Linked DNA regions of Homo sapiens. The protein of the gene in region 2 purifies or fractionates together with the protein of the main gene of each other region. This does not show direct contact. Each region holds a gene or a part of one and is shown on either strand. Other genes may lie near its edges. The genes, in order: PRKAR1A, AGO3, SLC25A3, OTUD4, RBM10, ECI2 and AP3M1.

Evidence for each region.
Region 1: the proteins of AGO3 (region 2) and PRKAR1A purify together in Homo sapiens (affinity purification with mass spectrometry, with the first as the bait; one large-scale study listed by BioGRID). This does not show direct contact.
Region 3: the proteins of AGO3 (region 2) and SLC25A3 purify together in Homo sapiens (co-immunoprecipitation; one large-scale study listed by IntAct). This does not show direct contact.
Region 4: the proteins of AGO3 (region 2) and OTUD4 purify together in Homo sapiens (affinity purification with mass spectrometry; one study listed by BioGRID and IntAct). This does not show direct contact.
Region 5: the proteins of AGO3 (region 2) and RBM10 purify together in Homo sapiens (co-immunoprecipitation; one large-scale study listed by IntAct). This does not show direct contact.
Region 6: the proteins of AGO3 (region 2) and ECI2 purify together in Homo sapiens (co-immunoprecipitation; one large-scale study listed by IntAct). This does not show direct contact.
Region 7: the proteins of AGO3 (region 2) and AP3M1 purify together in Homo sapiens (affinity purification with mass spectrometry; 3 studies listed by BioGRID and IntAct, with this or other methods). This does not show direct contact.

What each region holds. Positions count from the first base shown.
Region 1 is NC_000017.11:68,518,930-68,522,429, forward strand, and holds part of PRKAR1A (cAMP-dependent protein kinase type I-alpha regulatory subunit), read left to right. Parts: intron 1-3,500. UniProt on the Homo sapiens protein: Regulatory subunit of the cAMP-dependent protein kinases involved in cAMP signaling in cells.
Region 2 is NC_000001.11:36,042,605-36,046,104, reverse strand, and holds part of AGO3 (protein argonaute-3), read right to left. Parts: intron 2,659-3,500; coding exon 2,557-2,658; intron 1-2,556.
Region 3 is NC_000012.12:98,603,686-98,606,867, reverse strand, and holds the end of SLC25A3 (solute carrier family 25 member 3 isoform b precursor), read right to left. Parts: 3' UTR 501-3,182; downstream 1-500. UniProt on the Homo sapiens protein: Inorganic ion transporter that transports phosphate or copper ions across the mitochondrial inner membrane into the matrix compartment. Mediates proton-coupled symport of phosphate ions necessary for mitochondrial oxidative phosphorylation of ADP to ATP.
Region 4 is NC_000004.12:145,170,590-145,174,089, forward strand, and holds part of OTUD4 (OTU domain-containing protein 4), read right to left. Parts: intron 1,132-3,500; coding exon 1,081-1,131; intron 1-1,080.
Region 5 is NC_000023.11:47,172,721-47,176,220, reverse strand, and holds part of RBM10 (RNA-binding protein 10), read right to left. Parts: intron 3,094-3,500; coding exon 3,024-3,093; intron 1,203-3,023; coding exon 1,129-1,202; intron 1-1,128. UniProt on the Homo sapiens protein: Binds to ssRNA containing the consensus sequence 5'-AGGUAA-3'. May be involved in post-transcriptional processing, most probably in mRNA splicing. Binds to RNA homopolymers, with a preference for poly(G) and poly(U) and little for poly(A).
Region 6 is NC_000006.12:4,118,576-4,122,075, forward strand, and holds part of ECI2 (enoyl-CoA delta isomerase 2), read right to left. Parts: intron 3,472-3,500; exon of another isoform or gene 3,374-3,471; intron 701-3,373; coding exon 611-700; intron 1-610. UniProt on the Homo sapiens protein: Able to isomerize both 3-cis and 3-trans double bonds into the 2-trans form in a range of enoyl-CoA species. Has a preference for 3-trans substrates.
Region 7 is NC_000010.11:74,130,329-74,133,828, forward strand, and holds part of AP3M1 (AP-3 complex subunit mu-1), read right to left. Parts: intron 1-3,500. UniProt on the Homo sapiens protein: Part of the AP-3 complex, an adaptor-related complex which is not clathrin-associated. The complex is associated with the Golgi region as well as more peripheral structures.

The DNA.
Region 1 (3,500 bases), on a different chromosome or scaffold from region 2:
AAATACTGCCAGTCTCTTTGCATAGCGAGAGTCACCTTTACTCCAGTTCTCAAGTTCCTCATCTCCATCTGAGACCACCTTAGCCTGGACTTCATTGTCCATATTACTATCAGCATTTTGGTCAAAGCCGTACAAGAAATCTCTAGGAAGTTCCAAACTTTCCCACATTTTCCTGTCTTCTTCTGAGCCCTCCAGACTGTTCCACCCTCTTCCTGTTACCCAGTTCCAAAGTTGCTTCTGCATTTTTGGGTATCCTTGTAACAGCACCCCACGCTCTGTGTACCATTTTACTGTATTAGTCTGTTCTCATGCTGCTAATAAAAGACATACCCAAGACTGGGTAATTTATAAAGGAAAGTGGTTTGACTCACAGTTCCTCATGGCTGGGCAGGCCTCGGGAAGCTACAATCATGGCAGAAGGGGAAGCAAACACATTCTTCTTCACATGGCAGCAGCAAGGAGAAGGGTCAAGCAAAAGGGGGAAAAGCCCCTCAAAACTGTCAGATGTCATGAGAGCTCACTATCACCAGAACAGCATGGAGGTAACCACCCCTGTGATTAAATTACCTCCCACCAGGTCCCTCCCACAATATGTGGGGATTATGGGAACTATAATTCAAGATGAGATTTGGGTGGGGACACAGCCAAACCATATCAGTCTGAAAATACAGTCATATTCTCATCACCTTCTTCGTCATTACTGGGGGGTTGTGTTTCTGTTACCTTCAACTACTCCATAAGAAATGTACCAAAAACTCTTGACAGTTGGTCTTTTGAAAGCTTCTGCATTTTAATTCAGTCATCTGGAATTTGAGTCTTCTTTTACTCTTGTATTTATTAGACCCTTAGGTAAGAGGAATTAAAATAACAGTGACCTTGTGTCTGCTGTGTCAGGTACTGTGTGAAGCACTTTATATACATAAATACTCGTTATTTCAAATGTACGAGGTATGTGATTTTCAGCATTTTATAGACATAGCAGTAAAACTGAGAGAAATTAAGTAATGTGGCTGTGGTTATAGACTGTAGTCGTCAGCTTTTGCTGGAGCAACATACAACCCCCAAATTTCAGTGGTTACTACAACAGACCAGTCATGTGCAGTTCTTCTGGTATCAGCCTGTCTTATGTTCTTGACACCACATATCTTGTTCTGGGGCTGAGCAGAAGGAGCAGCCCTATATAGGGCATGCTGTTCTCAAAGCAGAGGGAGGGCAGAAGCTCAAGGTGGACAGAGCCAAACCACACAGGCAACCATGGTATGGCATGTCCACTTACATTCCATGGCCAGAGCAAGTCCTGTAGCCAAGCCTTAAGTCAGTGGGGTGGGAAGTATACTTTACCCACAGGGAAGAGTGACAGAAGCAGGGAGGGAACAAATAATCGGGAAAACATAGTAGTGGGGACAGAATTTGAACCTAAGAGTCAAGAAGATAGTGCAGAATTTAATGCAAAACCGAATGCAGAATTTGAACCTCAGAGTCAAGAACATAATTAACCACTGAGTAGACTGGGAGGTTTTTTCTAATTTTTAATTTTTTATTGATATATAACATTTGTATGTTTTTATGGAGTACATGTGATATTTTACAGGCATAGAATGTGTAATGATCACGTCAAGGTATTTAGGTTATTCATCACCTCACTTAAAGAGCTGAGGAGGAAGGAGACTGACAGAAGGATGACAACAGCAAGAGAAAGGATATAAAAATATATCATAGTATATACTAGAAAACTCATGATCTGAGTAATGGCTCTGAGTTGTCAGATTAGGTTATATTCAGATTGCTGTTTTTAAAAGACTCACTAGAATCCATGAGACACTGCTAAAATCAGAATGCTTTTGTTACTTCAAAATTAATCTTAAAAATTCAGTGAAGTAGAATGTAGTCCCAAGTGAAATGTTATTTGTGAAATTTTTCCTGAAATTTTTGTGAAATGTCAGTGACAAATTTGGGGGTGGGAGAATTTGTGTTTTCATTTATACTCTTAAACTGTGTGTGTGTTTTATTTTATTTTTATTATTATTTTTTTGAGACAGTCTTGCTCTGTCACCCAGGCTGGACTGCAGTGGTGCAATCTCGGCTCACTGCAACCTCTGCCTCCTGGGTTCAGGCGATTCTCCTGCCTCTGCCTCCTGAGTAGCTGGGGCTACAGGTGCCTGCCACCACACCTGGCTAATTTTTGTATTTTTAGTAGAGATGGGGTTTCACCATAATGGCCAGTCTGGTCTTGAACTCCTGACCTTGTGGTCTGCCCACCTTGGCCTCCCGAAGTGTTGGGATTACAGGTGTGAGCCACCATGCCTGGCCTATTTTTTGAGACAGGATCTCACTCTGTTGCCCAGGCCTGAGTGCAGTGGTGCGATCATGGCTCACTGCAGTCTCTACCTTCCAGGCTCAGGTGATCCTCCTGCCTCAGCTTCCCAAGTAGCTGGGACTACAGGTGTGTGCCACCACGCCCAACTAATTTTTATGTGTTTTTGTAGAGATGAGGTTTTACAATGTTGCCTAGGCGGGTCTCGAACTCCTGGACTCAAGTGATCTGCCACCTTCGGCCTCCCAAAGGGTTGTGATTATAGGCGTAAGCCACTGTACCCAGTCATGTATTCTTAAACTTTAAACTTGGGAGAGACTTGAGTTTTATACCTGTGTTAATATGAAATGAGAAAACCTTACTGGTTATTGGAACAACCAGAATTAACATGAAATGAGTTTTCTAAAAACCATATTTTAAAAAGTAGGTTACATATTCACATATTTCAAAGTTGTGCAGGTACAAAGGGGCATAATAATGAAAGGTCTCCCTCCCACGCCATTGCTTTTCTTGAATGCTGCCAATGTTCTGGAGATTAATATATGGGCACTTACAAATTTATATATAGAAAAGAAATAACGGGTCAAATGAATGAGAAAGTAGAAGATAACACATTTTTATTTTTTCCCTTTTACTTCAGGCACAACAACTAATTCTTTAGATCTGAGAGGAATTTGTTTTTAAGGCTCTAGATGTGAAAAAAGGAATGTTTAATAGTTTATCTTAGGTTTTATTTGAATTGGTCCAATAAGTAGTTTTTAAAAGCAAGTAAACTCTTTTTGTCTTTTAACTTCAAGTTTAAACCTTGATTACAAAGAGTGATCCTAGCTCTGCTGGGAGAAGTATTATAGATACGATCTCGTTTAAATTCGTGGTTACCATCACATCATTTCATTATTTGTTTTTATCTGGGATCAAACTGGAATGTGAATTCCACAGGCTCAGGACCCTCTCCTATTTGTTTTTAATTTCCTGTTGCCTAGCATAGGTCTTGGCCTGGCAGATCCAGAAAATGGCTTATTGAGTTAATGAAATAACTCAGTAATCTAGACATTCTTGGATCACTATGTTGGGCTTGAATTGTTTTTCCTGATAACATTTCTTTTGGCAGGAGGGTCTCTTGCTATCTGCAGTAGCATCCAAAAAAACCCAATTTTCAGGATTTTGTCTTGCAGTGTGTTACTGT
Region 2 (3,500 bases):
AACAGTGCTGGGGACCCCAGTGTAGGTGTCCAAGGTGTTGATGGGGATTGCTGGGATCCTCTTGCTTATCTGTTCACTGCAGGGAGAAGTTCCTCCTGGTTCCCAGCTGATCCTGATTTGGAGATGGAGTAGTGGAGGCTCAGTGTTTCTTTCTGTTCTCTGTGTGGTCATCCCGAGTTTCTGTGCTCACCAGGGTTTCTGTTACTCCTCTGATGCACTCCAGGGCTCTCCCTCAGTTATTTTCATTAAAATATAGTTGTTTGGCCCAGTGCAGTGATTCATGCCTACAATCCCAGCACTTTGAGAGGCTGAGGCAAGTGGATCGCCGGAGGTCAGGAGTTCAAGACCATCCTGGCCAACATGGTGAAACCTCATCTCTACTAAAAATATAAAAATTAGCCGCGTGTGGTGGCAGAAGCCTATAATTCCAGCTACTCCGGAGGCTGAGGCAGAAGAATCGCTTGAACCTGGGAGGTGGAGATTGCAGTGAGCTGAGATCACGCCATTACACTCTAGCCTGGGATCACGCCATTACACTCTAGCGTGGGCGACAAAAGCAAAACTCCATCTCAAAAAAAAAAAAGGTCGGACATGGTGGCTCATGTCTGTAATCCCAGCACTTTGGTAGGCTGAGGTGGGCGGATTGCCTGAGGTCAGGAGTTCGACACCAGCCTGGCCATCATGGTGAAATCCCATCTCTACTAAAAATGCAAAAATTAGCTCGGCATGGTGGTGGGTGCCTGTAGTCCCAGCTACTTGGGAGGCTGAGGCAGGAGAATTGCTTGAACCTGGGAGACAGAGGTTGCAGTGAGCCAAGATCACACTACTGTACTCCAGCCTGGGTGACAGAGTGAGACTCCGTTAAAAAAAAAAAATGTAGTTGTTTATCTGTTTTTCTGGCTTTCTTTGTGAGGGGAGCAAGCACTAGGGGCTTCTAGTCAGCCATCTTGCTGACATCACTTCCTCTGGACCTCCCATTAACCACCAACCCTGAAAATGTACAACATTAATTGTAAAGAGGAGCTGATATAAGAACATGGATAAATGAGTCAGACAATAATTTAAAGCCATGAATCTGAAACAGGTTCGTATATGTGGGACATATAAAGCTATAAGATACAGAGCTGTATGGTAAGGTACATCTGGAAATTTCTATCTTAATCAATAATGGCAAGTAACCTAAAATAGTTTTGGGTTATAGACTCTCAGACATCCTGGGAATGTCAGTTTACTTTTTGTTGTTGGAAAGTTTGAGATGCACTGATTTAAAGCTTATGTTCCACCAAGTAAAGCTAACACATTAATGAAAAGGTTTTCTGGAAAGAATAAGAAAAACTTTTTAAATTATTTAACTGAAACTTAAGGCCAGGTGCAGTGGCTCAAGCCTGTAATCCCCGCACTTTGGGAGGCCAAGGTGGGCGGATTACTTGAGGTCAGGAGTTTGAGACCAGCCTGGCCAACATGGTGAAACCCTGTCTCTACTAGAAAAAATAAAAATAAAAAAATTACTGGGTGTGGTGGCACCCAGTAATCTCAGTCTGTAATCCCAGCTACTAGGGAGGCTGAGGCATGAGAGTCACTTGAACCTGGGAGGCGGAGCTTGCAGTGAGCCGAGATCATGCCACTGTACTCCAGCCTGGGCAACAGAGTGAGACTCTGTCTCAAAAACAAACAAACAAACAAACAAAACAAAACAACAACAACAACAAAAAAAAACTAAAGCTGTAATTCTACAATTAAATTTTTTTTTATTTTTTGAGACAAGGTCTGGCTCCGTCACCTAGCCTGGAGTGCAGTGGCATGATTTTGGCTCATGGCAACCTCCCTCTGCCTCCGCGCTCAAGTGATCCTCCCACGACAGCCTCCTGAATAGCTGAGACTACAGGCACGTGCTACCACACCTGGCTAATTTTTATATTTTTTGTAGAGACGGGGTTTCTCTATGTTGCCCAGGCTGGTCTCAAACTCCTGAACTCAAGCAATCTGCCCATCTCAGCCTCCCAAAGTGTTGGAATTATAGGCGTGAGCCACCATGCCCAGCCCAATTAAACTCTTTCACATGCTTAATACTACTAGTACATGTCAAAGTTTTCTATAAAATGTTATCGTCATTAGCTGAGTGTGGAGGCCTGTTGTCCCAACTACTTGGGAGGCTGAGGTGGGAGGACTGCTTGAGCCCAAGAGTTCTAGTCTAGCCTGAGCAAAATAGTGCTTTCTCTTTCTCTCTCTCTCTTTTTTTTTTAAAGATGCATATGCTAAAGGAACAATCAGGTACTTTCACATTTTTTAACATTTTAGTGAAATTAAGGGCCTGTTTTAGGGAGATTCATTCTATTAAACTACTTATATTCTGGTATTTTCATAAAAATAAGTTCCTAAGCCCCTCTCAAGGTAAGGAAAGGGAAGACATTTGTTTACTGAAAGTTTCATCTAATTTCATGTGGAAACAATTTGGAATGCAAAGAGTATTTCTTTATCCTTTTTCTGAGATTTAAAAAATACACGTAAGAATGACAGTTCTTGAATTAAAATATTTTACCCAAAGTGTAGGCTTACCTGTATTCCAGCATGGCTACAGAGGTAAAAATCGAACTCATATGGGTGTGTAATGTCTGTATCAACTGTTGTTCCAGCTGGGATATTGCCACTTCTTCCAACCTAGATTTGTTTGGTTAAAGTTTAAACAAACAAGAAAAAGGTAAAAATATATCTGAAAGCACTTTAAAAAATGTATGAATACATAGGCTGATCCTACATTTCACTACTTTCACCTTGAAATATGACTTAAGCAGTCATTCAGAGCAGACTACGCAGGTCCTAGTTCCTATTCTTACATGTTGCTGAAAGTGAGCGCTGATACACAACAAAACCTAATACAGTCTCTACTACTGCTTAGCTGATAGTTGACCCCACTATGGGTGGAAGACACTAAAAAAAATTTTTTTTAAATTAACTTAAAGTGCTCCAATTTATGGTACCTGTGCATAGTAGGTATTCTTGAACGTGTGATTTATGAAGATCAGCATTTACCTTGGAGAAAACTAGATGTTTAGAGAGAGAGAATGCTGACAAGATCAACAACAGTCACACCATTTGTTAACCATTTATGGATCAGGCACTTTGAACACATTATTTCTAAAACCTGGTAACAATCCTGCAAGTTAGGGATTATTTCCATTTGTTTAGGGAAATAAAGGCTCAGGAATACAAAATAATTTGCTCAATAGCACACAATAAAGGGCAGAACTGGGATTCAAACAATGAAATAATTGCAAAGGCCTTATTCCTTTTATTTCATACTATCAGTTTCAACATCTTGTAAGAGGACACCATGATTTTCTCTGAGTGGATATAATATAACTGAAATGACCCAAAATTCTTGATGATACAAGCTCCTTATAAAACACTTAAAAATGTTTATTATACCCACCTCCACCGCCTTATCCCAACACATTTAAAATCATTAACTGTAAGTCTAGGTTTACAAGGCTAGCAAATCA
Region 3 (3,182 bases), on a different chromosome or scaffold from region 2:
GTTGGGTATACCATATTTTCAGATGTTAATGCTTCCTTGAGATTTAGCAGTTTTAACCTTGACTAATATAGCCCTCTAGTGTTAAGATCATGGGTCTTGGAATAATGATATGGCCTGTCACATGAATTATTTTCCATCTTCAAACTTTGCAATACACTGGATTCTGCAAAGCAAGCTGGCTGATTTGAACATCAAATTATTATTCACAGTATTAGGTAGGAATTATATCTTGTGTAAGAGACACATCCCCAAGGCTCTTTCATTCAGTGTAGCAATACTTATTAAGTGACTATTGCATACTGCACTTCAGTGTCTATAAAAACACACATGAAAACTCTGGAATAGCTGCTTTCTAGGAAACTTGTCAGGTCACACCTTAATAACCAGGAGATTCATAAACCTTATCAGTGGTGAGGTTAACATCTCATGCACTTCTATGAACACCTCTGAGAATGTGAAGTCAGGGCTGGCTTGTAAAAGACAAATGATTCAACACATAGTTTGAACTTTTATTTATGTTTAATTTTTTAATTTTTACAAGATGCCGATAGTAGCTGGCTTATTAATGTACATTATTCTTTGATATTTCAGGAAGCCACAGTGTTCAACTGTGAACTACAGAGTCCTGTAAGTTTAAAATAACTTTGTTTCTCAACTATGTGATATCCAGGATTTTTTACAATTACTTTGAGATTTTTCCTCATCAGTAATGCAAAGAAAATTGCAATATGATTATACAATTTATTTTTATTTTTTTAGACAGGTTATCACTCTGTCGCCCAGGCCGGAGTGCAGGGGTGTGATTGTAGCTCATTGCAGCCTCAAACTCCTGGGCTCAGACGATCCTCCTTCAGCTTCCTAAGTAGCTGAGATTACAGGCACGTGCCACCATGCCTGGCTAATTTATTTTTTGTAGAGAGAGGGGTCTCACTTTGTTGCCCAGGCTGGTCTCCAACTCCTGGGCTCAAGTGATACCCAGCCTGGGCCTCCCAAAGTGCTGGGATTACGGGTATGAGCCACTGTGCCCAGCCTGATATACAATTTCTTCCTCAGACAGTCTGGCTCTGTCGCCCAGGCTGGAGTGCAGTGGCACAATCTTGGCTCACTGCAACCTCTGCCTCCCGGGTTCAAGCAATTCTCCTGCCTCAGCCTCCCGAGTAGCTGGAATTACAGGCATGCACCACCATGCCTGACCAATTTTTGTATTTTTAGTAGAGACCTGGGGTTTCATCATGTTGGCCAGGCTGTTCTTGAACTCCTGACCTCAAGCAATCCGCCCACCTCAGCCTCCCAAAGTGCTTGGATTTCAGGAGTGAGCTTTTGCACCTGGCCTGATATACAATTTCTGATGCTATAGAAGCAATGTATAACTCCTAATTTACTAGTGACTGCTATGCGCTTCATTAACATTATGGACATGTCGATCCCAAAAATCATATAGAAATGTTACTTTTTTTTTGAGACAGGGTTTCACTCTGTCGCCCAGGCTGGACTGCAATGGCGTAAACATGGCTCACTGTAGCCTCAACCTCTCGGGCTCAAGCAATCCTCCTGCCTCAGCCTCCCAAATAGTTGAGACTACAGGCATGTGTCACCACACCCCTTAATTTTTGTATTTTCTTTTCTCATTATGTTGTCCAGGATGGTCTCAAACTCCTGGGCTCAAGGCATCCTCCTGCCTTGGTCTCCTAAAGTGTTAGAATTACAGGCATGAGCCACTGTGCCCAGCCAGAAATGTTAAACTCACTTTATGGTTTCAGAACAAGGATCAAATAAAATAAAAATATAAAAAATAAAATATGGTTGGCCAAGTGTGGTGGCTCAGCCCTCTAATCCCAGCCCTTTGGAAGGCCAAGGCAGAAGGCTCGCTTGAGCTCAGGAGTTCAAGACTAGCCTTGGCAACATAGCAAGACCTCATTTCTGCTAAAAATAAAAAACATTAGCCAGACATGGTGGTCCACACTTGCAGTCCCAGTTATTCAAGAGGCTGAGGTGGGAGGATCACTTGAGCTTGGGAGATCGAGGCTGCAGTGAGCTATCATCGTGCCACTGCACTCCAGTCTGGCGACAGAGCAAGACCTTCTCAAAAATAAAATATGGTCGAAACGGGACAGACAAGGCGGCTACCTGTAACCCTGGCCGCTTTAGGAGCTGGGGCAGGAAAGTTGCTTGAGGCCAGGAATCCGAGACCAGCCTGAGCAACAGCAGGACCCGTCTATGAAAAAACAGGAGCAAGTAGTGGCACATCCCAATTGTGTCAGCTAACTGGGAGGCTGAGGCAGGAGGATCGCTTGAGCCCAGGAGTTCAAGGCTGTACTCCAGCCTGGGCGACAAAGCAAGAACCCTGTTCTCTAGGGAAAAAAAAAAAAAAGTCAAAACATTTCATAAAACTTTCACACAATGGAGGTTTAGTTAAGCTGTTACTCTTCTGTTCAATTTTGTTGCACCTATCAGAAGGCATAATTTCATAAAATCAGGATTCCTTGGCGTTTTAACCACTCTCAAAATATTTGATCCTACTGGAAGTTACTATGCAATGCTATCTTGTCCCTGAATCAACATAATTCAACTATCAGCTTCATATATATATATATATATATATATTTTTTTTTTTTGAGACAGAGTTTCGCTGTTGTTGCCCAGGCTGGAGTGCAATGGCGCAATCTTGGCTCACCACAACCTCCGCCTCCCGGGTTCAAGCGATTCTCCTGCCTCAGCCTCCTGAGTAGCTGGGATTACAGGCACGCACCACCACCGCAGCTAATTTTGTATTTTTAGTAGAGACAGGGTTTCTCCATGTTGGTCAGGCTGGTCTTGAACTCCCGACCTCAGGTGATCCACCCGCCTCGGCCTCCCAGAATGCTGGGTTTACAGGCATGACCCACTGTGCCTGGCAGTTTCGTGTATTCTTACTCCACTGGGTTCTGCTTTATCGTATTGACAGTAGACATTTCATTAAATGAAATGTAAAAAGAACACCAATACATACATATTAAAATTTTCTTACTAGAATCTTTTAGTATAATTTAAAAACCTGAAATGAGAATTCGCATCACTTTAAGTGGGCCTCTTGGGTTTTGAGGATGAAGTGGCTTTCTCTCAGAAATAGCTTTGAACCGTAACTCTAGTAACTACAGTGGCAGGCTCCATAGCTTGAACACAGCGTATTTTGTATCAATGCC
Region 4 (3,500 bases), on a different chromosome or scaffold from region 2:
TTTCCTATGATAGGGAAACTTTTTTGTTATCTACATTATCTCTGCATCCCCAGGGTGACTAGGAATTCTTGGCCCATAACAAGCACTCAAATTAGTGTTAGGCAACCAAATGGATACATCAGTCATCGATCAAACACCCTTGGTTCCTACATTACATTCCCTTTACTCCTTAACTCTTCTTAGCTTTTTTCTTTGCCAATGTTATTTTTACCTTAACATTCTAAATGGCATTCCAAGATACTTGGATTTTTACAGTGAGAACGTTAGTTTTGTAAACAGAAAAATTAAGAAAAATCCTTTTAACATAAACATGACTGAAAAAGTATAGCAGCAGGAGTTGGTGAGTAAGTGCTATCCTTTTCTGTCTCAACAGTCTCTTCCCTCTTCACGAGATGATCATGGAAATAGGAACCTGCATGAAAGAACTCTGCCTTCTCAGTTGCCTAGGAAGAAAAACTCTGCAGGCCAGGTGTGGTGGCTCACACCTGTAATCCCAGCACTTTGGGAGGCTGAGGCAGGCGGATCACGAGGTCGAGAGATCGAGACCATCCTGGCCAATATGGTGAAACCCCATCTCTACTAAAAATAAAAAAATTAGCTGGACATGGTGGTGCACGCCTGTAGTCCCAGATACTCGGGAGACAAATCGCTTGAACTCGGGAGGCGGAGGCTGCAGTGAGCCGAGATCATGCCATGCACTCCAGCCTGGCAATGGAGTTAAATTCCACCTCAAAAAAAAAAAAAAAGAAATCAAACTTCACCCTGTCCAAGTTCCATACACACACCAACGTAGCATTCTGAAAATCATCACCCCAGTATTATTTCAGATTTTTATACTACATTTACATGCCATTATAGCCAAGATAAAATATCACAACTCTGCCTTAGTGAGGCAACCTCTAACATATAGCTCCAACTTAAGTGCTGCATAAAATGTGTAGGAAACGTTTATAAGGAAATAGGATACACCGTCACTGCAACTCCTCTATACACTGTAATAGTAATCTTCTATTTTAATGAATTTTAAATACATTATTTGGATATATAAAAATAGAAATATACTAGAAGACTGTGACATACCTGTGGATTTTCCAAACGCTTTAAATATTCTTCAAATGATCCTTCTATAAACTGCAAAAAATAAATCTATTAGAAATGTCATCTAACATATATGCCAAAACAGTTAACCGCTTCGCTGTGTAAACATTCACTGTGAATTACTGAGTTTGTACATAAACCTAAAATACCTCAGTATTATTTAAAAATATGTACATAATCTAATTATGAAAACATATAGCAATCATTAAAGACTATAAACATACAAAAGAATTTAAAGAAGGAAATTCTGTCAGGAAAGGTTTCCTGAAAGAAGAGTGACTCAAGATGAATGCTGGACAGGATCTGGATGGCAACAGGCAGCTGATACTCTACAGAGAGGGCCAATGTGGCGTGAGGAGGAAGAGGAACACTGTGTTGGGAAGACAAGCAATCTGGCCAGCTGGAGCAGGACAACCTGTTGTGGAACTGAGTGGGAGAAGAACCCAAAGGGGGGCCTGTTTACAGAGGGCCTTGAGCCCAGGCAGGACTTGAAGGCTAGATGAGAAAGGCCATTCAAGGCCACTTCAGGTGACATTCTGAACTGAGAAATTATATGATGAAAGCAGTGCTTTAACTTGGTAGTGACCAGTGTGTAGAAGGGAATAAAACAAAGACTGACTTACAAGCTAAGAAATAGTATAGCTTAATAATACAGATAAGAGTACTCATTGTCTCTCAAGTGATACTAGAAAGAGCGATGAGAACTAGTAAGGCGAAAAATATTTTGAAGCATCAACAAAATTTTTCTAATACAGCTTGCTTCATCGCTTCATTGTTACTTTGACATAAAAACAGTTTATTCAAGCTGTGTAATAACACAACCTTTTTTATGTTTCTTTAATAGCAATCGCACTCATTTGAGAAATCTCTAAAAGTCATTTGTTGAACCACCAAATTCAATTGCGTTTAAATTACAGTCCCAGTTGATTTAGCAGAGATATACTTAAAGACATTAAAGTATACTCCCTTGTCTATAAAATCTTTTAAGCACCCTTGGATTTTAAGATTGAGATTCTTTCATAGATTATATAATGTCAAATTGCCAAAAATATCTTAAATTTCGAAAGATATTTATAATAAAAGAGCCATATATATTAAAGAGCCCACCAATAAAGGGCTACTGTTCTGTATTAGATGATTATAGGTCTAAGGAAAAAAAAAACACAGAACCATTTAAAGTTACTAGAGACTGCAGAATTCTGACACAAGCCTGCATCCTCTCTGAGAGTCTCCTTTCTGAGCAGAAAGCGTCCACCTATGCCATGGCTGAACAATGTCAGTAACAAGGCATAATACTTTCTACAACATCTCTTTCCAATTCTGGACAACTGAAACTGCTTGAAGGTTCATAAAAGGAAAGTGAAACTTTTCCCCATGGAACTTTCAACCTCTGATCATACCTCATAAAATTATATGGACTAAGGCCAGGCACGGTGGCTCACGCCTGTAATCCCAGCACTTTGGGAGGCCGGGGCAGGCAGAGCATGAGGTCAGGAGATCGAGACCATCCTAGCTAACATGGTGAAACCCCATCTCTACTAAAAATACAAAAAATTAGCCTGGCGTGATGGTGCCAGGCACCTGTAGACCCAGCTACACTGGAGGCTGAGGCAGGAGAATGGCATGAACCCGGGAGGCGGAGCTTGCAGTGAGCCAAGATGGCGCCACTGCACTCCAGCCTGGGCGACAGAGCGAGACTCTGTCTCAAAAAAAAAAAATTATATGGACTAAAAAAAATATATGCAAAACACTTAATGCCTGGCATATAGTAAGCACCTCAACCAATGTTAGCAATGTCCATTATTATCAACACAGTTTTACCCTCTGGGGCCAATGATTAATAAGAATTAATTTAAAGACCATTCCACCTCCCCACTTCCCTTCTCTACCACACCTCTGCACTCTCTTATCTAGCCTCTGCGTTACCAGGTTTTTTTAATAAAACAAGGTTTCAAGCCTATCATTTGCAAAGTATTATATCAACATTCTCTACCAGTCAACTGGGGGAAATAACACCCAAAGTTGTCAGATTACATAATTCTAGGTCTTAAAACCAGTAAGTAATAAATCCTGTAAGACTTTGAATGTAAAATGAAAACAGGTCACTGTGGCATCTTATTTCACATACTACTGAGAAAATTATATTAAGCTGTTATACAACATTTTATTAACTATTAATCACTACTTACATAATTATAATGTTCTGACATGTGAGTTCACACTGAACCCTGAAAATTAAAAACCTATGAATGCCTTCTGATAAAATTAAGGGTTCAGCATTACTTACACTCAGCGTATTTTTTACACTGCAAGTCTGAATTTTTTTTTTTTTTTTTTTGAGACAGAGTCTCACTCTGTCACCCAGGCTGTGGTGCAGCGGCGCAACTCGGCTCACTGCAACC
Region 5 (3,500 bases), on a different chromosome or scaffold from region 2:
GTGGGGAGAAACCCCCACTCGGCCCTGACACTGCCAGGCCACACCCAGGGCCAGGACTACACAGGCTACACTTGGGGGGTGAGGGGAGACAGGGAGGGGGAGGGAGAGGGGAGAAAAAGAGAAAGAGAGCGCAGGTGCGCTAGTGCTGGAGAAGGGGAAAAAGAAAGAGCCATTTCGAACAGATGGAAGTTTCTGCCATGAGGCCGTCTTCCCATGGATGGCTGGGTCCTGGGCCCATGGCACTAGCCTACCAACCCCGAGGAGACGGCCCCAGGGCTGCCTCTGCCGGGATCCCCCATTCTACCACCTCTGCCCCTTCCTCCCCTGAAACTGCTCTCCAGTGCCCTACACCAGGGATCTGGGCAGGGGTGGGTGACCAGGCAGATCTTTGGGTCTCGGAGGTCCCAAAGCTGCTGAGTTGGGATCCCGTGCCAGGCTTGGGGGACAGGCTCCCCCCAGGGCTGACTGTGCACAGGTCCTTGCCGAGAAGACAGAGCTGCCTGAGGTGGTGCCTCCTGCGAGTGTGGAGATGTGATAGGAAGGGTAGGGGCGGCGAAGTGAGGCCAGGGTGTCGATAAAACTATCATACTCGACGGGAACTTGAGATCAACAGAGCAGTGCTGTCCCCTTGCATGAAAATCAAAGGGCCAAATTCACATGCAGGGATGGGGCTGACAAAATGAGTCTTGCTAGTGACTGTGCCAATAGCTAAGCTCCTCACTGGCAGGACTTCCAGTGGTCCTGAGGGTGGAATGAGGTCCTGGCTCTGGCTAACCCCAGAGAGGGGTGCCCCCCCCACCAGCCCCGGGGGAGTGGGAAGCTAGGTGAAAGAACCCACCCTGGCAGCTCTTTCTCTGAACGCTCAGCTGGGAGAGGTGAAGGGGCAGCACTAGTGCCTGGTGGTAGGAAGGGGCCAGTGGTGAGTGTGGGCTCTGGATGAGAAGCCCAGTGGGGTAGCGAGAGATGGGAAGAGGAGATAGTGAGGGTCAGGAAGGGGAGAGAGGGGGCGGGGGGATGGGACACAGGGCCACAGGGCAGGGAACTGTGTCCATAAGAATCAGGCGATGGGGAGCGCTCGATTACAAAGTAGTATTTGTTTGGGGGGGGGTTCAAGTGCGGCAAAGCAACCTGATTGGCTTCCATCCATCGTGTAGCGTCCTGCAAGTGACTAAACTCGACGAAGGCGAAGCCCCGGCTCTGACCTGGAGACAGCATTCAGATACAGACGCAGTGGGTTAGTCAACAGCTTTGGACACACGGCGTTCCCGGGGGCGGGACCCGAGGGGAGAGGACGGGGGGCAGAGAGGGAAAGGGGAAGAGGAAAAAGGAAGAAAGAGAAAGAGGCAATCAGAGAGAGAAAGACTAGCGGGCGTGGGGGGCAAGGTAGATGGCCAGGTGGGGCAGGGAAGGTGGAGGGAGAAAAACAGAGGCCAGAGGTCGGTAGGGGGAGAGACACACACACCAACTGGGAAGAGAGAGATGGGGCTCGGGCAGACCTGCCCAGCCAGCCTGGGGTGACAGAGACGGAGAGAAGCAGCTGGGAGGGAAAGAATACGAGAGATCTGCCTCCAAAGAAGGAGGGAGGGGATGGTGGGCAGGCTGCTGGCTCCACACAAGCCACAATACGTAACTCCAGGGCGGGCCCAGCTCAAGGCCAGGGGTGCCCAGGAGGGGTCCTGTAACAGGTGTTGAATCACAGGAGCAAAAGAGAAGCTGGGCCAGGCTGCTCTGCGAGGCTAGGAAGGCTCTTGGCCCATTGGAAACCAGGGGCGGTTAAAGACACGACCTCATCTCAGCCTCACCGCAGCGCAGGGGAGGCGGGCCTCGCTAGGGAGCCACCTCAGGGCCACAGGGTGGAGACTACAGCCACAAACAGTCCAGGTTCCCCTGGACAAAAGGAGAATGGTGGCCAGGATTGGCCAGGAGGACCTTAGAGGTAAGAATCAATGGGTGCCTGGGAGAAGCGCCCAGGGCCATTGAGAAGGCCGCACCTGGAACACCTCCTTGTGGAGAGAGAGACCCAGAAGCTGTCCGTGTGTGGTGTAGTTGGGGTGATGCAGAGCAAGACCTACATGCAACCAAGATTCCAGGCTTGGGAAAGGGATTCAGGGTTGAGGCCTCAGGATAGCATGTCCTTTAGAGGCAGATACATGGGGAGGGCTTGGATGAGAGGGGCTTGGGGGGGCATGCTTAATGTTCAAAAGAATAACCGTTAGGATGCATAGGAGGATGGAATGAATAATATAGTTGGGGGGGGCAGAGAGAGAGAAAGAGAGAGAGGGAGAAAGAGAGAGAGAGAGAGAGAGAGAGAGAGAGAGAGAGAGAGAGAGATGGAGGTGTGGGGAGGAGAGACTGAGAGATGGAGAGAGAAGCCCAGGCAGAGTGAGGCCCCACTGTGCCTGCCTTGGGGAGCCTGGGCAGAGGTCCTGTAGAGACAACTCCCCCCACCACCACCCTGCTAACCTCAGGCCAGCTCCAAGCAGCCTGCAAGAGGGAGGGAGGGAGGGAACAGGCGAGGCCAGGAAGTCCTGGCTGTTCCTTGGGATGTGTCCTTGGATAAGAGCCATCCCCTGCTTCCCCCTTGGGACACACATGTGGGACCACCACGTCAGAGCTACTTTCTGGTCAGAGGCTGTTACCAAAAAATGTGGGGGAAAGTGAGGGGCAGAGGAAGGAGAAGAAAGGAGAGGGAAGGGAGTGTATGGGAGGGGGTTACCATCTCAGATACTCAGAGTCCCAGAGAGGAGGTGCCTGGGAGCCTGGCCCTGGCCCTGACCCCAGGGAGCACCCAGCTCAGCTCAGAGCTGCACCCCTGCCCCGACAGCCCCATTGAAGAGGCTTTTGGCTGGAGCTGTGAGGAGAGTGTGGGGAGTGGGAGAGAAGAGAGGGCACCCCCCACGCTGCCCATTCCCAGCTGTGGCAGGAAGGTGGTGGAGGGAGTGGGGGAGAAGGCAGAGGCAGGAGGGAGATTCGGAGGCTGAGGCTGGCCACTTGAAGGGGAGGGCACTAGAACAAAAGCTCACCTGAAGATTTGTTCCGCATCAGCCGAACCTCCCGTGCTTGCACGCCGTGCGACTGCAGCTGGCCACGGATCTATACGGGGAGATACAGAGTAGGGCAGGCTCAGCACAATGGGGCCGCTGGGTACCTGAGGCTGGCTGGAGGCCTCTGGATCCCGAGGGGTCATCGGTGATGTGCACACAGTCTCCTCCGCCTCTTTCGCAGCTTTTCCCTGAGTGACAACAGCCCCAGGCCCACACCAGTTCACAGTCTTGACTTTCAGCCCCAGACTTGCAGAAAGTGAATCAAATGAAGAAATGGGCACAGAGCAAGGTAAAGCATGGCAGCAGGACGACCCTCAGGGGCACAGAGAACAAGAGAGCAAGTGAGCCAGCCACTTAAGAACGGTGGGCAGGGTGATCTGACAAAGGGCTCGCTGGCAGCCACGAAGTAAGGAAACCTGGGATGCAATTCTTGCCCTTGGCAAGGGGATAACCCGC
Region 6 (3,500 bases), on a different chromosome or scaffold from region 2:
GAGTCATGCCACAGGGCGTGGGCAACTAGGAAACACAGTGAAAGACCTGAGCAGCCACTTAACCAGCCTGGGAGAGAATACACCCGTGAGCAGGCTGATGGAAGGGCTGCTGTGATTGGGGGTGGCTCTGGCAGCCGTGAGCCCCCACAAAACCTCCCATCTGTTGGTACTTACTGTAACTCTGAAAGTGAAGACGTCATCATGTCTCTCCTTAGGAGATACTGGTCATCCATAAAGGAACCGAGTGGCCTCCAAACTCAGGGGACCAAGGGAGGCTGGCACAGCCCTGGTCCTTCAAGTGACTAATGCCACACAGCTGCAAGGCTGAGGTGCTGTGCTGCTTGCAGTGCAGCTAGCACTAAGCAGCCAGCTGAAGAGGAGGATCCCAGTTCTGGGAACTGCAGAGAGAATTTCTAATTTTCCTGCATAGCAGATACTTCCCATAGCCTGATTCCTCCATTGGTAAAACTCTTAAAGAGTTGAAAAGCAAATCATTAGCTTCTCTTTTGTCCATATTACCAAGGGAAAGAAGGGAGAGTATATGAGATTACTCTTCCTTCTTTCTTGAGATGACTCATAAAATTTTATATTTAAACATTCCAAAAGTTACCTTGGCTGGGCTCATTATCTTCGGAAAAGTGTAAGAGGAGCATCCTTCCGGACTTTGGCCTAGGTGACTAAATGGTGTATGAAATGTTGCCTGCAGAGGCAGGAGAGAAAAGAAAACCATCTTTTCATGTGTGATTTTTTTTTTTTTTTTTGAGACAAAGGGTTTCGCTCTTTTGCCCAGGCTGCAGTGAAGTGGCGCGATCTCGGCTCACTGCAACCTCCACCCCTTGGGTTCAAGCGATTCTCCTGCCTCAGCCTCCACAGCAGCTACGATTACAGGCATGCGCTGCCATGCCTGGCTAATTTTTGTATTTTTCGTAGAGACGGGGTTTCGCCCTGTTGGCCAGGTTGGTTTCAAACTTCTTACCTCAGGTGATCCACCTGCCTCGGCCTCCCAAAGTGCTAGGATCACAGGCGTGAGCCACCATGCCTGGCTTCATGTGTTATTTTTAAAAATCACGATTTGCTTATAACTTCACAATACTTAATAATATTTATTTAAAAATTAAGATTATGTGGTTAATATGCACACACAATTCACCCTTTAAAAGTGTATAGTTGGATGAGTTTGAACAAATAGAGAGTTACATAGCCACCACCACTACTGACATGCGGAACATTTCAGCCACCCTGAAAGGTTCCGGGGGCCCTTCTGTAGTCAGTCCCTCCCTCCCACCCCCAAGCAACTGCTAATCTGTTTTCTGTCCCTACAGTTTTGACTTTTATAGAATGCTGTATAAGTGGAATCCTACATTCTGTAGCATTTTGAGTCTGACTTCTGAGAGTCACCATGCTGTTGTATGTATTAGTAGTTTGTTCCTCGCTATTTCTGAGTAGTATTCCTTTGTATGGATGCACAATAATATGTTTATCATTCACCAGTTAATGCCATTGGTGTTGTTTCTAGCATTCAAATGGTTGTACCATTTGACACTGCCACTAGCAACGTATGAAAGGCTACTATGAAGAAGGCTGCTATGAAAAACAAGTTGAACACCTTAAATATATCTAGTCGTGTGTTGCTTAACAATGGGGATATGTTCTGAGAAATGCATAATTAGGCAATTTTGTCATTGTGCCAATATCATGGAGTATACTTACATATACTTGGATGCCACAGCCTACTGCACACCTAGCTATGTGGTAATCCCTACTGCTTCCAGGCTACCAACTTGGACAGCATGTTACTATACTTAATACTCTAGGCAGTTATAACAAATGGCATTTGTGTATCTAAATATATCAAACATAGAAAAGGTAGGCCGGGTGTGGTGGCTCATGCCTGTAATCCCAACACTTTGGGAGGCAGAGGTGGGCAAATCACCTGAGGTCAGCAGTTCGAGACCAGCCTGGCCAACGTAGTGAAACCCCATCTCTACTAAAAATACAAAAATTAGCCTGGTGTGGTGGTGTGCACCTGGAGTCCCAGCTACTCGGGAGGCTGAGGCACAAGAATTGCTTGAACCCGGGAGGAGGAGGCTGCAGTGAGCCGAGATCATGCCACTGTACTCCAGCCTGGATGACAGAGTGAAAAAAAAAAAAGAAAAGGTATAGTAAGATATGGTGTTATAATCTTAGGAGACCAGCGTTTTACATGCAGTCTGCCATTGACTAAAATGTTGTTATGCAGCACCTGACTGTACAATTCTTATTTGTCAAGTATACCTCAATGAAACTGAAAAAAAATTTAAAAATAAAAATGTTCAGATAATGTTAACAAAAAGGCAGTTAGGAACACTTGTGTACAGGTCACTGGGTGAATCTCTTTTAAATTATCATAGGTAAATACCTAAGTGGTATGGCTGGTCTGTGTGGTAAATGTATATTTAGCTCAGAAGCTGCTAGACTGTTTTCTAGAGTGGTTGTACCATTTGACATTCCCACCAGCAATGTATGAAAGTTCCAATTGCTCCACATCCTCACTAAACCTAGCTATTAAGTCTTTTTCATTTTAACCATGCTAGTATGTATGTAGTGGGGTCTCACTGTGGTTTTAATTTACATGTCCCTAACCATTAATGGTATTAAGTCTCTTACCATGTACTTATTAGACATACGTATATTTTCTTTGGTGAAGCAACTGTTAAGATATTTTCTCCACTATTTTTTTAAGTTAGGCTGTTTACCTTCCTATTATATAGTTGTAAGATACACATTCAGATTGCAAGTCTTTTATTAGAGCGTCAGGCAAATCTTTTCTCCTGGTCTATGGCTTATCTTTTCATTTTCTCAGTGGTTTCTCTCATATGGTTTTAATAGCCCTTTATATTTCATTTTGTCTGACCTATTCATTCCTCACCATTGCCCATTTTTATTTTAGCTTGTGGATCTATCGCTTTATAGACAAACTTTAAAAAGTATCGTGGAGAGATCAGCTTTTGTTACATGAGTTGAAAAATTGTTTCCTCAATCTGTCATTTGTCTTGATTTTGCCCCAGTGGTTTTTTTGGTTGGCTTTAACTACTGGAATTAATTCAATATTGGTTATTTAGTATATAGTCATTTTTAGTTTTTTTTTTTTTTACATTTAAGACATATTTTTGTGTTTCTTAATGAATAAATTATGAAAGAATGTTAATTTAAAATTCATAATATGTAAAAGAATATTTAGATTTCATTTCCTATAATCAGACACGCTGTTGTTTTTACTATATAACTGTTAGAAGATATAAATCTATAACATATGCAGCATATACATAAAAATAATCACAATATTTTTAAAAGTTTCTGTTAATGTCATGTATCTTCTTTTTTTATCCAAAAGAAAACTTATTCAAAAAAATGTACCCAGAAGACACAGCCTAAGGAATACAAGCAGGAAACTGAGAAACCTGCCAACAACAGCTAAAGGGACACAAACAGGTACATGCAAAGTTGCCAGTAAGCAGCAT
Region 7 (3,500 bases), on a different chromosome or scaffold from region 2:
ATACTTAACTCTGGCTGGAATATAATAATAATTCTTTTATTTTTAAGAGATAAAGTCTGACTAGCTAGTCCCAGCTGGTCCCCAGAGTAACTGAGACTACAGGTATGCCACTGTAGAATATAATTTTTTTTTTTTTGAGACAGGGTCTTGCTCTGTCACCCAGGCTGGAGCGTAGTGGTGCTATGATAGCCAGCCTCAACCTCCTGGGCTCAAGCAATCCTCCCACCTCAGCCTCCCAAGCAGCTGGTACTACAGGCATGCACCTCCACGCCTGGCTAATTTTTGTATTTTTTTTGTAGAGACAGGGTCTTGTTATGTTGCCCAGGCTGGTCTCAAACTTCTGGGCTCAAGCAATCCGCCTACCTTAGCTTCCCAAAGTGCTGGGATTACAGGTGTGAGCTACCATACCCAGCCAGAATATGCTAATTCTAAGGAAAATTAAACTGTTTCCTTTATGGAGCCAACCCTGTAAGATGACTGGATATGAGTTTAAAACATTTGGCAGGACGCAGTGGCTCATGCCTGTAATCCTAGCACTTAGGGAGGCTGACGTGGGTAGATTATCTGAGCTCAGGAGTTTGGGACCAGCCTGGGCAACATGGCAAAACCCCGTTTCTACTAAAAATACAAAAAATTAGCCAGGCGTGGTGGTGTGTGCGTGTAGTCCCAGCTACTTGGGAGGCTGAGGCAGGAGAATCGCTTGAACGTAGAAGGCGGAGGTTGCAGTGAGCTGAAACCACAACACTGCACTACAGCCTGGGCGACAATGTGAGACTCTGTCTCAAAAACAAAATAAAACAAACCAACCAAAACCATTTTCAATAGAATTTTATTTTTTTTTAATTTTTTTTTTGAGACGGAGTCTTGCTCTGTCACCCAGGCTGGATGGAGTGCAGTGGCGCTATCTGGGCTCACTGCAAGCTCTGTCTCCCGGGTTCACGCCATTCTCCTGCCTCAGTCTCTCGAGTAGCTGGGACTACAGGCGCCTGCCACCACACCCAGCTAATTTTTTGTATTTTTAGTAGAGATGGGGTTTCACTGTGTTAGCCAGGATGGTCTGGATCTCCTAACCTCGTGATCCACCCGCCTCAGCCTCCTAAAGTGCTGGGATTACAGGTGTGAGCCACCGCGCCCGGCTTCAATAGAATTTTAAAATGTGGCAAGTGTATTATGAAATGGACTAAGTTAACTTTTAAGAAATAGGATCCATAATAGAAAGATATCTCTTTTTTTTTAAGAGACAGGGTCTCCCTCTGCCATCCAGGCTGGAGTACAGTGGTGTGAACATAGTTCACCACAGCATTGAACTCCTGGGCTCAAGCAATCCTCCTGCCTCAGCCTTCTGAATAGGTAGGATTAAGGAAGCCATGCCTAGCTAATCTTTTAAATTTTTGATAGATATGGGGTCTTGCTATGTTGCCTAGGCTGGTCTTGAACTCCTGGGCTCAAGTGATCTTCCTGCCTAAGCCTCCCAAAGTGCTGGGATTACAGGTGTGAGCCACCGTGCCTGGCAAAAATCTATTATTCTATAAGATGGAATGTTATAATGAAAAGGGGACTCATGGAAGAGAAGATATTGACTATAATTCACAATAAGCCATCATTACATATTAACAAGTTGTGTGACCTGGAACAGTTCACTTAACCCTTCTGGGCTTTCCTTATGTGTAAAATAAATGTAAAGGAAGGACTAGATTTTTTTTCTTTTTTCTTTTTTTGTTTTTTTAGAGATGGAGTCTCACTCTGTCACCCAGGCTGGAGTGCAGTGGTGCAATCTTGGCTCACTGCAACCTCTGCCTCCCAGGGTCAAGCAATTCTCCTGCCTCAGCCTCCCAAGTAGCTGGGTTTACAGGCGCCTGCCACCACGCCCAGCTAATTTTTGTATTTATAGTAGAGACGGGGTTTTACCATGTTGGCCAGGCTGGTCTCAAACTCCTGACCTCAAGTGATCTGCCTGCCTCGGCCTCCCAAAGTGCTGGAATTACAGGCGTGATCCACCATGCCCGGCTGCTATTTTTAATAATAAAATTTTACGATTCTTATAGAGTACTATTGTTTTGTCTGGTTAAAAAGATAATCAGATTGGGTGTGGTGGCTGATGCCTGTAATCCCAGCACTTTGGGAGGCTGAGGTAGGTAAACTGATTGAGCCCAGGAGTTCAAGACCAGCCTGGGCAACATGGTGAGACCCTGTCTGTACAAAAAAAACAAATAAAAGTTAGCCAGGCATGGTGGCGTGTGGCGTGTACCTCCTGATTGGCTGGGACTATAGGCTACTCAGGAGTTTGAGGTAGGAGGATCACATGAGCTGGAGGTCAAGGCTACAGTAAGCAGGGACTGCGCCAATGCACTCCAGCCTAGGCAAAAGAGCAAGACCCTGTACTTAAAAAAAAAAAAGAAAGTGAAAAATAATCAGATAGGGGCTTTTACCAGAAGTACTGCACATAATGTAGTAGCAAAAGCATGGTATATAGCAGATTTTCAATAAATGTTAGAAGGAATAAATAGCAAGAGGTAGAGGTACATAGGGTAATAATTGGCTTAAAGTAAGGCATTATGAGTTCTGATTTACATGTTTGGCAGACCTCAACTAGTGGTTATGAAAATTATATGTAACCTATGGGCAAAATAAACAGATTTATGGGCCAGGTGCAGTGGCTCACGCCTGTAATCCCAGCCCTTTGGGAGGCCAAGGCAGGTGGATCACTTGAGGTTAGGAGCTTGAGACCAGCCTGGCCAACATTGTGAAACCCCGTCTCTACTAAAAATACAAAAAATTAGCCAGGGCCGGGAGCGGTGGCTCACGCCTGTAATCCTAACACTTTGGGAGGCCGAAACGGGCAGATCACCTAAGTTCAGGAGTTCGAGACCAGCCTGACCAACGTGGAGAAATCCCATCTCCACCAAAAACACAAAATTAGCTGGGCATGCTGGTGCATGCCTGTAATCCCAGGTACTCGGGAGGCTGAGGCAGAAGAACTGCTTGAACCCGGGAGGCGGAGGTTGCGGTGAGCTGAGATTGCACCATTGCACTCCACCCTGGGCAATAAGAGTGAAACTGCGTCTCAAAAAAAAAAAAAAAATTTAGCCAGGTGTGGTGGCTCATGCCTGTAATCCCAGCTACTTGGGAAGCTGAAGCAGCAGGATCGCTTGAATCCAGGAGGTGAAGGTTCCAGTGAGCCAAGATCATGTGATTGCACTCCAGCCTGGACAACAGTGTGAGACCCCGTCTCAAATAAATAAATAAATAAACAAACAGATTTAAAAATCATCAGATAATGAATGCCTTTCCACCGAAACCATACTGCCAAAGGACTTCAATTTTCTTTTCCTTTCTTCTTCTTTTTTTTTTTTTTGTTGAGACAGAGCCAGGCTGGAGTGCAATGGCATGATCTTGTCTCATTGCAACCTCTGCCTCCTGGGTTCAAGCAATTTTCCTGCCTCAGCCTCCCGAGTAGCTGGGATTACAGGTGCGCGCCACCATGCCCGGCTAATTTTTTG